Linked DNA regions of Homo sapiens. The protein of the gene in region 2 interacts with the protein of the main gene of each other region in a biochemical or structural test. Each region holds a gene or a part of one and is shown on either strand. Other genes may lie near its edges.

Region 1 (7,034 bases), about 120 Mb from region 2:
GGTTTTAACCGTTTCGTTGATGTCCCTATGTGTCATGCTGGGAACCCCAGCTGATCCCCATGGTTAGTTCATGAGGGACAGGGGTAGATGCTTCTTTCTTTCATAGCAGGATCTCATTAATATGAATGTGGGTGCATAGCAGGGCTTCTATATATACCTACTGACTTAGCTCTATTAAACCACAGCAGTCTTGATATATTCCTGGGGTTACAGAAGTTCCTCCCTCTTGCTGAAGAAAGTGGAGGTGCCGTTAGGGGCTGACTAACATGAGAGAGAGCCCCTGGACTGAGATGGGTTTCAAGAAACACAAGCTTCTTTCAGGACTTTTTTGCTGGAGATTTCCCTAAGATAGGCACATACCTCCAACTCAGGAAGACTATATTGGGGTGAGTGACGTATTGACATTATGGTCCTGGCCTATCTTGCAGGGATTTGAAACTGGACAACATCCTTCTGGATGCAGAAGGTCACTGCAAGCTGGCTGACTTCGGGATGTGCAAGGAAGGGATTCTGAATGGTGTGACGACCACCACGTTCTGTGGGACTCCTGACTACATAGCTCCTGAGGTAAGACCTGTGTGCAAAGGTTCACCTCCTCCTGGTGCCAGGACCGAGGCAGGGGTCCAAACCCATGCACTGGGGTCATCTAGTGGTGCTGGGGGAAGGCTCTGGAAATCCAGGATGGATTCTAGGAAGGAGGGAGAAAAGGAAAGGAAAAAAGTTTGCTGATTGATGTCTGTCAAGAAGTCCTAGTGTTGGGGAGATGATGAGTGAAATGAGAGTAACAGGCTATTTCCCAAACCCGGGCAAGTTCACACTGAACATCTCTTTCCCATCCTAGTCCAGAACCACCAATAAATCTAGGACCAAGAAAAACGTGTTGACTTTTATTATTGTTTTCATGTCTTTAAAATCAGAACAGGGTGGGCACAGTGACTCACATCTGTAATCCCAGCACTTTGGGAGGCCAAGGCAGGTAGATCGCTTGAGCCCAGGAGTTCAAGACCAGCCGGGGCAACATGGTGAAACCCTGTCTATATAAAAAATACAAAAATTAGCCAGGCATAGTGGTGCAAACCTGTAGTCCCAGCTACTTGGGAGGCTGAGGTGAAAGGATCAATTGAGCCCAGAAGGTTGAGGCTATAGTGAGCCATAATTGCACCATTGCACTCCAGCCTGGGTGACAGAGCAAGACCCTGTCTCAATAAAAAAAAAAGTAAAAAATAAAATCAGAATAAAGGAGCATCATTGATCATGGGAGCACTTCACTTTATCAGCTACAATTTGCTAACAGTAAAACTAGGAACTGTTTGCTATTTCCTGCATAGTGGCAGTTCTATGCTGTGAGTACACAGGATGGAGCAGGAAGAGGAGAGTGACTGTGCCTCATTATATACAGATATCAGAGATGTTCACTGTGAACCACTCCAATAGGTTGCCTTTCCTGAAAGTTGTTTGGGATGTTTTGCTCAGCATGAAGTGTTTGTTTGCCTTATTCCTGCCCAAACTGAGAGATAACTAGTGTGATGTGATTCAGATTTAAGACATGGCCTGTCATAGACAATCAAAATGATCTTCATGGTTCTGAGACATGTAAGATAGGAAAGAAGTACCAATCCCCACTAAACATCGCCCATGGCGGATAGGTATTAGCACATTCAGAGCTCATTTCTTTCAGTGGGCATTGTTTGAGCACGTGCTAGGCACAAAGCAATGTGGAGATAAAGAACTGACTGAGACACTTGTCCCTATTCTAAAGAAGCTTTTGGTCTAAAGGGAGTGATAGATAAGTAAACAACTAATTAAGCAGAATAAATAGGCACATAAAAGAAGATGGTATCCTCAGGGATCAGGAAAGGCTTCTTGGAGCACCTGGTGGATGAATTGAGTTGTAAAGAATGAGGATTTCCTTTGACGGAAGGGGTGGGGAGGGTATTCCTGAAAACAACAGGATTGGAACGGGGGCAGGACAGGAAAGGAGGTTCAGTGTCCCTGGGCCCTGGATCCTTTGAGGGCAGGGTCTGTGTTTCTAATCTGGGTACTGCCAGGATCCGGCACACAAATCAGGATCTTAGAAAGGTTTGTTAAAAAATGACAACTTATGACATTCCAACATGAGCAAAGGCCAAGGGACAAAAACATCTTGGTCTTTTCCAGGACAGTTAAAAAGTGTAGCTAGATCATAGGGTTTCCTGGTGCTCATAGTAATGAATGAGATTGGGATAAAGACCCAGTGAATGTGGCTTTGATCCTGTAGGATCTGTGGACCCACTCAGGGTTTCAGTGGAGGAGAGTCCTAGTCAGATCCATCCCAGGAAGAAGGAAGGCCACAGCTGTGCAGATCAGAAGGCAGGGAGTGAGGGACTGATGGTCAGGAGGCTTCACAGACCACACAAGACAGGGGAGGCCTGAGGAACATCTCGAAGTGAAGGTGATGAGTAATAGGTAGTTTCCCTTTAGAACCTTTATCTTCTAAGAGATCTAAAGAGTAGGGATTTCAGTCTTTCTGCAAATGTATTTCCTTAGCAAGAACACTAGGAATTCAGCCTTCAAGGAGCAACAAATGAAAGCAAGAGCTTTCGACAGGGAACTGCTTTTCTCGTGTTCTTCGTTCATTCTTCATTGTCAGAATACTTAGTTCCAGTTCCTCTCTAAGTTGATGCCATCATTCATTCTTCATTGTCAGAATACTCAGTTCCAGTTCCTCTGTAAGTTGATGCCAGAGCCTAACAGTTGACAGCCCATGTTATAGTTAAGGACCCAACCCAAGACAGAACATTCACTTTATAATGAACAAAATAGCCACTCAGCTTTCATGAAAAGCAGTCCATTGGTGAGACTCACAATGAACAACTCTGATCTCTGTTCACAATGAAGCACAGACACTCTTCCTTCCTGCTCTGGCCTTCGTGCCCACCGTGCAGAAACATCTCTGCACTGGCAATGACAATCCCTGGTCTTGCTGTAGGCAAATTACAGCTGATAAAGGTATTGCTGCCTTCATCGAGGGCTACTGGGAAGATTAAATGAGATTATGCCTCTAAAGCATTAGCCCAGTGCCCAGCCCACAGGGAGTGCTGGCTAAATGGTGGCTTCATGGTTATCATCATTGTTGGGTTGTGTGATGGGATAGGAAACGCAATCCTGAGAATTGAGTCTTGAGTCCAGATTTGACCACAAATGTACACATGAGCATTTGATGACTTGATGAAGTCACAAAATGTTTTTGAGTCTCAGGTTTCTCATCTTTCACATGGGAGCCATAACTCCTTCCCTACCTACCTCATCAAGCTGCTTTGAGAATCTAATGAGATTAGAGCATGGAAATGCTTGAGAAAGCAGAAGCCTCCATTCAAATGGGAGAGGTGGTAAGGTGCTGAGCTAACCTCAAAACCAGAGACAGCTTTGGAGGCATGAGGTCTGCCCCAAGGCTTATCTTCCTGCCACATGATATGCCCCATGGCACCCCCTCTGCTTTCCCACTCCCAGCCCCTGCTTCCCAGGAAGTGGCCACCAGCCTTTGGTAATAGCATCATCAGGGCCAATGCCTTCTCCCTTCTCCCTTCTCCCGAGCTCTGACGCACTTGAGGGGTTGGCTCCAGGTGACTTCCCGTGACATGGAAGCCTTGCCCTTCTGCCCAGATCCACTGCCGACAGTTAATTAGGAAGCAGATAATTAGAGCCAAGCCTAAAAGGAATCTTACAAAAGATGCCACCCAAAATGAGAAGGCTGTGGAAGGGGCCTGGAGTGGGGTGGCAGGGCGGCTCTGTGGTTTCCACAGCACCATCCAGTCTCAGCACACACAAGCCACCTTCTCCCCACCCCCTGAAGGCACAGAACCCAGCTGCCTCCTTCCGAGAAGCTGGAGGGCAGCCACTGTAGCACCCAGTGTGCCCTGAGGCTAGAAGAGAAGGGAGCATGCCCAGTAGATACACACAGTGGCCATGCATGCTAGCCAGTCACAAGATGTTGACTGTCTCCTGGATGATAGAACAGGCTGGCCACAGCACTGGGCTCAGTAGCATGTTACAGCTCCTACCCTCTGGTACCTTATAGTTGCACTGGGGAGACCGCTGGCCATGAAAAAATAACTAACGACGTAGTGGTATGTGGAAAGTGAGAAAGTGCCTGCAACTCGTAGGAACAGGCAGGGGTCTTAAGTTGGGCGCTGTGTCTTTTGAGGTTGAGGGAGGAGTTGGCATTGGCTTTGGAGCATAGCAGAATCACTGGCTCCTCAGGACAGTGGAGCCCATAGCTTTGACCTTACAGCTCAAGGAACACTAACCACTGGGCTTAGACCAAAGGTATTAGCTAAACAGATTACCAGCCCCAAGTAATGTAGAGTTGGCTGCATTTTCTCAAATTCCTTTTCATTCCAAATTCAGAAGATTCTAAACTGTGAGTGTTTTAACTGTTTCTAAATGCTTCTTCTATCCAAATCTTTCTAGTTCATCCTAAGCAATTTGTAACCTCTAGAAGGGTATTTTGAGCAGACCACAGAAAGTCCAGATACTTGAATTCAGCCTCCTCTTCCCTGGCCACCATGAAATCTGAGAACTAAATTGGAGCCTTGTCCCCAGCCTGAGATATTATCTGCCCAAGGTGTCCCATGGGCTGGAATGACTAGGCATGAACTTTGCCTTTTTTTTTCAGGGTCCTCAAAGTGTTCCCCCTTGCAGGATATGCACTCCAACCTTGTTTCTCCTTCCCTTTTTAAAATTCTTTATAGAATTATGGACCTGGATAGGTCATCTCATCCACCCTCCTGTTTCTGGGCAGAGCCATGCCTAATCCCACTCTAATAAGAAGAGAAAATAATTGTGGAATGGGAATGTCACCTCATGATCTCTTCCTTGTAGAGTGGACAGCTCAGCATTTATTTTTCCTCTGAGCCAAACACATCATTGATCTGCTACATATTTATTTTATTTATATATGTTATATTTTAAAGGCATACTGTAAAATACAAAGCTCTATACAGCTGAAAGGTGATATTAAATTCTAGTCTTTTCTATTGGATGTCATCTCCATATATATATATATGTATTTTTATATATATGTATTTATATATATGTATTTATATATATATGTCATTGACATGCTACATATTTATATGTGCGTGTGTGTGTATCATGTATTTATGACATATGTGTATGGAGAGCAGATCAAATAGAATAGCCAATCAGAAAAGATCCTTTTTTTTTTTTTTGAGATAGGGTCTCACTCTGTTACCCAGGTTGAAGTGCAGTCGCATGATTATGACTCACTACAGCCTCAAACTCCCGGGCTCAAGTGATTTTTCCACCTCAGCCTTCTGAGAAGGTGAGACTACAGACACGTACCACCATGCCCAGCTAATTTTTTTTAAGAGACAGGGTCTTACCATGTTGCCCAGGCTGGTCTCGAAGTCCTGGACTCAAGTGATCCTCCCACCTCAGCCTCCCAAAGTGCTAGGATTACAGGTGTGAGCCATTGCGCCCAGCCAGAAAAGATGTCTTGTATTCAGTAGCATCATGTCATACATGCATTTAATCTAAGTGAATTTGACTCTACATATTTGGCTAGAGGAAAAAGAGAGACAGCATAGATAAGACAAGTGACCATTGTCAAAGACAAAATGCACCAGACAATCAAGGAGATGGTTCGATTCTGGCTATTGCAATAGGGGGTTCATTAGTGAAGGTGGCCCCAAAGGAAGGGGGCCTACGGTTTTGTAGAGGCAGGCAAAGTGGGGGATTCTTCAGTGGATCTTATGGGAATCATGATGAACAATAGAGATGGGTTTTTTCTTAGAATATGCAAGAGTATAGTGGTCCTTTATAGGGAGACCATTACAGGGTGGGGGAGACTTATTCATTGCAGTTTCCTCTCCAGGAGCACAGGGCTCAGGTAAATTGAGTGTTGCACCATTTAAAGAAGACCTCTGCTCACCTTTCCACTCAGGCAGTGAGCTGTGCCCTGGACTGTGTGAGATGGGAGACCTGACCTCGCTGCACTCTGAGTCACTTACAGCTTGTTCTCTCAGTATGCATCGTGCTCCCCTGACCCTGATTTTAGTGTCAAAATATGCAGTTTTTTAAAATGTGGCCCTCATGCCAGTCAGGAACTTTATCTGGTGCTCAAAGAAATAGGAATTTGTTCCCACTGGAAGACAGACTGTCGATGTTGACTTTGGAAAGATGATAGCTGGCCCCCAGCATAGTGCCTCCAAACTCAACTGTCACTGAATTTGCTGATTTAGAACTTCTAGGACTAGGACTCAACTGTAGGGAGGAGCAAGTTGGAATTGAAGTCCTTCCCATGGGCGTTCGTAGCACGGGTGTCACTGGGGTGGGAGCCTTTGATGGTGCCTGACATTGCTGGTTTCCTGAACAGATCCTGCAGGAGTTGGAGTATGGCCCCTCCGTGGACTGGTGGGCCCTGGGGGTGCTGATGTACGAGATGATGGCTGGACAGCCTCCCTTTGAGGCCGACAATGAGGACGACCTATTTGAGTCCATCCTCCATGACGACGTGCTGTACCCAGTCTGGCTCAGCAAGGAGGCTGTCAGCATCTTGAAAGCTGTGAGTCACTGCCCCTCACCCATGGCTGTGCTCTCCTGGGCTCCTCCCCCTACACACACACACACACACACACACACACACACACACACACACACTCCCTTCTCCCTTTCTCTGTCCAGCTTTCTCCCTCCCACCTCTGCTCATCACCACGGAATGGGAAGGATTAAGGGCAGTTGCCACTGGGAGTTCAGGCACAGTGCAGAGGACTGCTGCCAAGAGAATGGGGCCTGAGATGACTTGCTCTTCTGGTGGGAAGAGGAGCGCATGTCTGTGCTTCCTGAGATGAGGCACTGTGTACATCTGTGTCCTCCAGCATTTCAGAGGGAACAGAAGCAACTCAACTGTGCTGACATCACCTCTGCCACTTCCATACCTTCCTTACCTGTGGCCTGTCTTCATCAGGGACCTGTGATGGAGAACAGAGAGGAGGGGAGGGAGGGTGGGCACCGCCCACCTGTGTCCACGACAG
Region 2 (7,034 bases):
CCATCTGATCCTGCATCCCTCTGGCAAATGAGTGCTGGCTCCTGGCTCTGGACTTTGAGGATTTGGAGGAGGAATTCAGGAAGTAGGCAAAGAGATATGGAAAAGGATACAATCCCATCTTTATACCCAAGTGTGGAGCTCTATTATAGTGTATTTCCCCCCTTCTCATGTCCTTTGGGCTTTAGTGATAAATGTAAAAGGTGCTGGGAGCAACAAAAAGCTTGGTGGCTCTGCTTTCCCCTTCTTCCCTCCAGAAATAGCCCCTGGCTCCCTTGTGTGGGAGGATTCTAATCACCGCAGCCCTCCCATGCATCCCCCCTTCTCCCACCCATCACAGTTGAATTGTAGTCCTGGGAAGCAAAGCTGAATTCTCCAGATTAACTTGCCTTTTTGCACCTCTTGGGACTTTCTTCCAAGTCTGCCTTGTGACACGTGTGACTCCGCAAGTTTCTTGGTATTTACAGAAACAGCTTTGGGGTCACCAAGAAGCTTAGAACCTTTTTCCTCTTTTCAGTGTGCTGCATTTTGGGCTAAGACTGAGGCTGAATTGAAGGAGGAGAAGCCAAAGGAAAGAGCAGACGTGCGGGCCAGGAGCCCCACAGGGGATGGTGGAGATGTGGAGGGAGTGTGCTCCACGCTGGCAGGTTCTCCTGCCCTTTTGGCTTAACCCTCTTTCCCCGTTTGCTGCCGGAGTTTGTCCTGCTCACCTTGGGCAGGAGAACTTTCCACTCACTCCGAGGGGCAGAGGTGAGGCACTGAGAATCCCGCCCTGGGCTCAGATCCCTCCTGTCATCTCTGTGGAGTTCTTGGATGACTAGTTTTATTCCAGCATTTGTCACCATCTGCCAGGCTTGTAGGCTCCTGGAGGGCAGGGGATCTGTCCCACTAGCTTTATCAGTCCCCAATCCTAGATGCTTAGCAAAGTGTTTTTGTACAACAGGTGCTCAATAAGTACTTATAGAATTAAATGGCAACACAGAAGATTGAAGCTTTTTTTTGTCTCACAGTACCTTCATTCAAGGAGAGGGGGTGGTGCAAGAAAAGCTGCATTCAGGTTTGCATTCAGAAAAATACCACTTACGTTCAACCCTGTGAGCATTACCTGGTGCTGGAGGAAAGTGTCTGCCCGAATCCTCTGTGTTGGACCTCACTACTTCTCCTTCTGCCATCCTCACCCCTCCTCCTTCTGCTGTCCTCCCTCTGCTGTCCTCACCCCTCCTCCTTCTGCTGTCCTCCCTCTGCTGTCCTCACCCTCCTCCCTCTGCTGTCCTCACCCTCCTCCCTCTGCTGTCCTCGCCCTCCTCTCTCTGCTGTCCTCACCTCTCCTCTCTCTGCTATCCTCACCCCTCCTCTTTCTGCTGTCCTCACCCCTCCTCTCTCTGCTGTCCTCACCCCTCCCCTTCCCTCTGCTGTCCTCACCCTCCTCCCTCTGCTGTCCTCACCCTCTTCCCTCTGCTGTCATCTTCCTCCCTCTGCTGTCCTCATCCCCTTCCCTCTGCTGTCCTCACCCTCCTCCCTCTGCTGTCCCCACCCTCCTCCCTCTGCTGTCCTCACCCCTCCTCTTCCCTCCGCGGTCCTCGCTGTCCTCCCTCTGCTGTCCTTGATCTCCTCCCTCTGCTGTCCTTGATCTCCTCCCTCTGCTGTCCTTGCTCTCCTCCCTCTGCTGTCCTCACCCTCCTACCTCTGCTGTCCTCACCGTCCTCCTCTGCTGTCCTCACCCCTCCTCTTCCCTCTGTTGTCCTTGCCCTCCTCCCTCTGCTGTCCTCACCCTCCTCCCTCTGCTGTCCTCACCCTCCTCCCCTGTTGTCCTCACCCTCCTCCTCTGTTGTCCACACCCTTCTCCCTCTGCTGTCCTCACCCTCCTCCCTCTGCTGTCCTCGCCCTCCTACCTCTGCTGTCCTCACCCTCCTCCCTCTGCTGTCCTCACCCCTCCTCTTCCCTCTGCCGTCCTCACCTCTCCTCCCTCTGCTGTCCTCGCCTTCCTCCCTCTGCGGTCCTTGCTCTCCTCCCTCTGTGGTCCTCACTCTCCTTCCTCTGCTGTCCTCACCCCTCCTCATCTCTCTGCTGTCCTCACCTCTCCTCCCTCTGCTATCCTCATCTTCCTCCCTCAGCTGTCCTCACCTCTCCTCCTCCCTCTGCTGTCCTCACCCTCCTCCCTCAGCTGTCCTCACCTCTCCTCCTACCTCTGCTGTTCTCTCCCCTCCTCCTTCTGCTTATACAGCCCATAAACAGTGCTGGCAGCATCTTCTCTGATTGTGTCTCCTCCTTTAAAGCCCTATCCTGGGGCTGGTCACTGGAGTGGAAGCTGTCCAACTTACTTAATTGTGAGTTCACTGTCACATTCAGAGAGGAGAACGGGCTTCACTTACTGTTTTTCTCTCTTGCATGACTGGGCCTCTGCCACTGATGACATTTGGCACTGCCCCCCTCCCTGCCTGAAGGCGAGCAGTGCCAGAGCCACTGTATTTAAAACACAGACACTCACTTCTTTTCTCAGGAGAAACAAGAGCCCTGCTTGGAGAGTTGATTCACTCTGCAGCTGACCCTCAGGGGCTGGGCAGTTTGCAGCACTCTCTCTGACCAGCTTCTTGTGCCATAGGCTTCTTGCAAAGGACCAACAGCCTGGAAGAGAAGAGTCGCCTTGTGAGTGCCTTCAAGGAGAGGCAATCCTCCAAGAACCTGCTTTCCTGTGAAAACAGCGACCGGGATGCCCGCTTCCGGCGCACAGAGACTGACTTCTCTAATCTGTTTGCTAGAGGTAGCCCCTGCCCCACTCCCGCCCCATGCTAGCCAGTAGATTTCTTATTTGAGTTTCTTGACTTTTTCCTGCAATTTTACTTCTTTTATCAAGAAATGTCATTATTCTCTCTGAACCCACATGAAACTGCTTTTGTGACTTTGGGGGAATATAATTGACTCCCTCCCTCCCTGCTGGCCAGGTCTCCATCATTTTGGAAACTGGATGAAGGCAGTCAATAAAAGTCAACTCTAAAGACACTCGAGGGAACAAATATGGATTCATAGACTCTCAGAGTCAAAGGAACCTTGCATATAAGAAAATCTAATGATTTCCTTAATAACGTTTATCCTGGAAGATTGGCCACACACATACACACAAAATCACACTATGGGAAGTTGCATGCTGAGCCTCATAACCAACGAGTGTCCTGGAACTTGTTTTCCTTTCAGAGATGTTTTACTAACCCCTGCTGCCCCACAACACTCATCTCAGGAGGTGCTTTACCAGTCTCTCCCAAACAGCTCATAGGTAGATCCGCTTCCATCCCCTTCTGTGAACTTCCCACAGGGCCACAGAAGGCAGACCAGAGTATTAAACAATATGTCACTAAAACCCTGGAGCTAACCCAGGAAGTCACAGAGAGTATCGTGCACAACTGCACAGCCTGCCTGTGAGCTACAGAATTGGGCCCCTACAGCTTTTTTCCCTGCCTAACCTCTAGCCTGACTACTGCAGAGCCTGTCACCCAAAGTCACCTCTGGATATCTCAAAGTCCAGGCCCAAAAGGGTGGGGTCAAGAAAGAGGCAGGGGTTCCCTGTCCCACCTTCTTGAGCCCCATCTTCCAGCTCCAGTTTCCTGTCGAAGGACACCGCCAAGGACCACCCTCCTCAGGGGGAACCCCAGCCTCTACCCACAGAGGCCTTACCCTCTGATGCCAACAGACCAAGCACATCACAACACCAAACCAGATAGACAGGGACACACCTGGTCCCAGGGGAGCACGACAGATGCCCCCTCCATCACACTCCTCACAGGTGCCCATTCAACCTGCAGATGACAACCGCAGTCGCAGGTTGTTCACGGCGTCTCAGAGCACTTCATTCCATGTCTGAGCAGCCTGTCAGAAAGGCTGTGAACCCCCAGGAAGCATGTGCAAAACTTCTGTGTATGTGCATTTTTCTGGAGATGTGGTATATCCGATTCTCAGTGCACATACATATCCCAGAATGAAATCAGGCCTATACAGATAGCATGGTTAATATTAGGGGTCTCTGGGCTGAAGAAATCTAGATATGAGTCAGGTGAAAACCATTCATTGCTCTCCCCAATTCAGATCTGCTTCCGGCTAAGAACGGTGAGGAGCAAACCGTGCAATTCCTCCTGGAAGTGGTGGACATACTCCTCAACTATGTCCGCAAGACATTTGATCGCTCCACCAAGGTGCTGGACTTTCATCACCCACACCAGTTGCTGGAAGGCATGGAGGGCTTCAACTTGGAGCTCTCTGACCACCCCGAGTCCCTGGAGCAGATCCTGGTTGACTGCAGAGACACCTTGAAGTATGGGGTTCGCACAGGTAAGGAGGAGAGTTGGGTAGACAGGTAGTGGCAACTTTGCCCTCCATCTCACCCTTGCCAGTTGTGAGGATATCAAACTTGTGTTGGAAGAAAAACACAGCCCTGGTGAGATAAGGCGGCAAAGTACCCAGTGACCACAAGAACAAGCTTGGGCAGTAACAGTTGGTGGAGGGACCCGACCCAGGCAAAAGTTCATCAGCATATATCATGGTAAAAGTAGATAAAAAAGATATAAATGCTTGGTGCTAGGTCAAGTTCTGTATAAAGAGTTTTCATTCTGGCCAAGCACAATGGCTCATGCCTATAATTCCAGCATTTTGGGAGGCCAAGGTGGGCAGAACACTTGAGCTCAGGAGTTCGAGACCAGCCTGGGCAACATGGCGAAACCTTGTCTCTACATATGTGTGTGTGTGTGTGTGTGTGTGTGTGTGTGTGTGTGTGTATATACCTATTTTTATATATAAATATTTATATATAAATATTTAATATAATAAATAAATAATAATTATAAATAATAAAATTTAAAAATAATAAATTATAAATAATAAATATAAAAATAATATATAAATATTTATATATAATATTTATATTATATATTATATATAAATATAAATTATATAATATTTATATATATATGAAAATGAGCTGGGCATGGTGGCGTGCACCTGTAGTCCCAGCTACTCAGGAGGCTGAGGCCAAGAGGCAGAGGCTGCAGTGAGCCAAGATCGTGCCACTGCACTCCAGCCTGGGCAATAGATTGGGACCCTATCTCAAAAAAAAGAATTTTCATTCTTGGATTTAGGCTATTCACAACCTAAAGAGAGCAGAATGACCCATCCTCTGCTTCTTTTCTTGCCTCCATTTTCAGGTCTATTTCATTCTGATAAATCCTGCCCTTGCCTGTCCCTGACACTGGGGAGAATTGGGCTATTTCCTCTCCCTTTCTGTATTAGTTTCCTAGGAATGCCATTATAAATGACCACAAATTGGATGGCTCAAAACAATAGAAATTTGTTCTCTCACAATTCTGGAGGCTAGGAGTTTAAAATCAAGGTGCTGGCTATGCTCTCTCTGATGGCTCTTGGAGAGGATCCACCCTTGTCTTTACCAGCTTCCAGGTGTTGTGGATATTCCTTGGCATTTGTTGGCTTGTAGATGCATCGCTCCAACCTCTGCCTTCACTTCACATGGCCTTCATCCTGTGTGTGTGTCCAAATTTCTCTCTCCTTATAAGAATGCCAGTCGTTGGATTAAGGCCCACCCCAATCCAGCATGACCTCATCTTAACATGATTACATCCGCAAAGACCCGATTTCCAAATAAGGTCACATTCACAGGAACCAGGGATTAGGACTTGAACATATCTTTTTGAGGAACACAATTCAACCCATGACACCTTTTACCAGCTAGGCCAAAAAGACACATGCACACACAGGCCAAAAAGACACAGGCACACATGCGCGCGCGCGCGCACACACACACACACACACACACACACACACATACACACATGCCTTCTCATTCTACTGCAACTTCTGGAACTTAGGACACTCTGAGTCACCAAATTCTATTTCCAGTGGGAGTCCTTGAGGATGTCCTCTTGCCTCCTTTTCTTGTTCCAGGAGCTCTCTCTAATCAGCAATCCTCATCAAAGCAGTTGCTTTCCAATTGCCTCCAGTTCAAGGACTTTGGGGCCTCTGTCTGAGATGCTTAGAAACAGCTCAGACTGTGGACTAAGCCCAGGAGTGACACAGTGGTTTCTTCTCCCTATAACTCTCTCCACACTACAGTCTGGCTTTCCTGAGCTCTCAGGCAGACAGATCTAGAATAATTGACAGTCCCTAGCTTAGTTGCCACCACAGGGGAAGCCCCAAGGCCACAACTGGCAATCCTGTGTTCTTTCTTCTTCTTTGTCTCTCCTTCTTTATTTTCCCTCTCATTCTTCCTCGTCATTTGAAGATAGATTTAAGACTGAGACTAGGAGGCTGGTGGTGATAGAGCTGAGTAAGACTATTGGATGTCAAAAACAAAGTGTTATAATGAAATAATGATGCTGGCCAAAGATGCTTTTTAAAATGAGGAATCCCAGAGAGCTGCTGAGGTCTGCCAACACCACTGGAATAAGTGCAGCTTCATTAAATGACTGATGGATACACAAGACTCAGTTATATGTACAAAATTTATGTTGTTTGATTTTTAAAGAAAAGCACTCTATCAATTTACATTTAGTTACTTCTCATCTTGGTCAGATGGCTAATATATTCCTAATGGAAAACAAATAGTGTTATTCGGCTGCATTTTAAAAAGAGTCAGAATTCCCCATGTATGTTTAGCTTGACTTGCTTTGGTGTGATATTTTGAACTTTGCCAGTTTGCTCTACATGCGCTTTCTCAGAGAGATGAGAACTACATCATTTTATTATGAAAGCCCAGAATGGCGTTGTCCCTCAAATAAAAATACATGATTTTGTCATAATATCAACTAATATTATCTACAAAACCAAAGCATCTTGTGGTCAGAGAAAGCACTGACGGGCCTGGCCTGGTGGCTCACACTCGTGATCCCATCACGTTGGCAGGCTGGCAGGTGGATCACGCGAGCTCAGGAGTTCAAGACTAACCTGGGCAAAACCCCATCTCTACCAAAAATACAAAAATTAGCTGAGCGTGGTAGTGTGCACCTGTGATCCCAGCTACTCTGGAGGCTGCAGTGGGA

Evidence for each region. The genes of interacting proteins can lie anywhere in the genome.
Region 1: of the proteins of GAD1 (region 2) and PRKCE, one has a biochemical effect on the other in vitro, tested with the Homo sapiens proteins (one study listed by BioGRID).

The regions. Positions count from the first base shown.
Region 1 is NC_000002.12:46,144,665-46,151,698, forward strand, and holds part of PRKCE (protein kinase C epsilon type), read left to right. Parts: intron 1-428; coding exon 429-567; intron 568-6,376; coding exon 6,377-6,565; intron 6,566-7,034.
Region 2 is NC_000002.12:170,826,876-170,833,909, forward strand, and holds part of GAD1 (glutamate decarboxylase 1), read left to right. Parts: intron 1-2,599; coding exon 2,600-2,758; intron 2,759-4,074; coding exon 4,075-4,317; intron 4,318-7,034.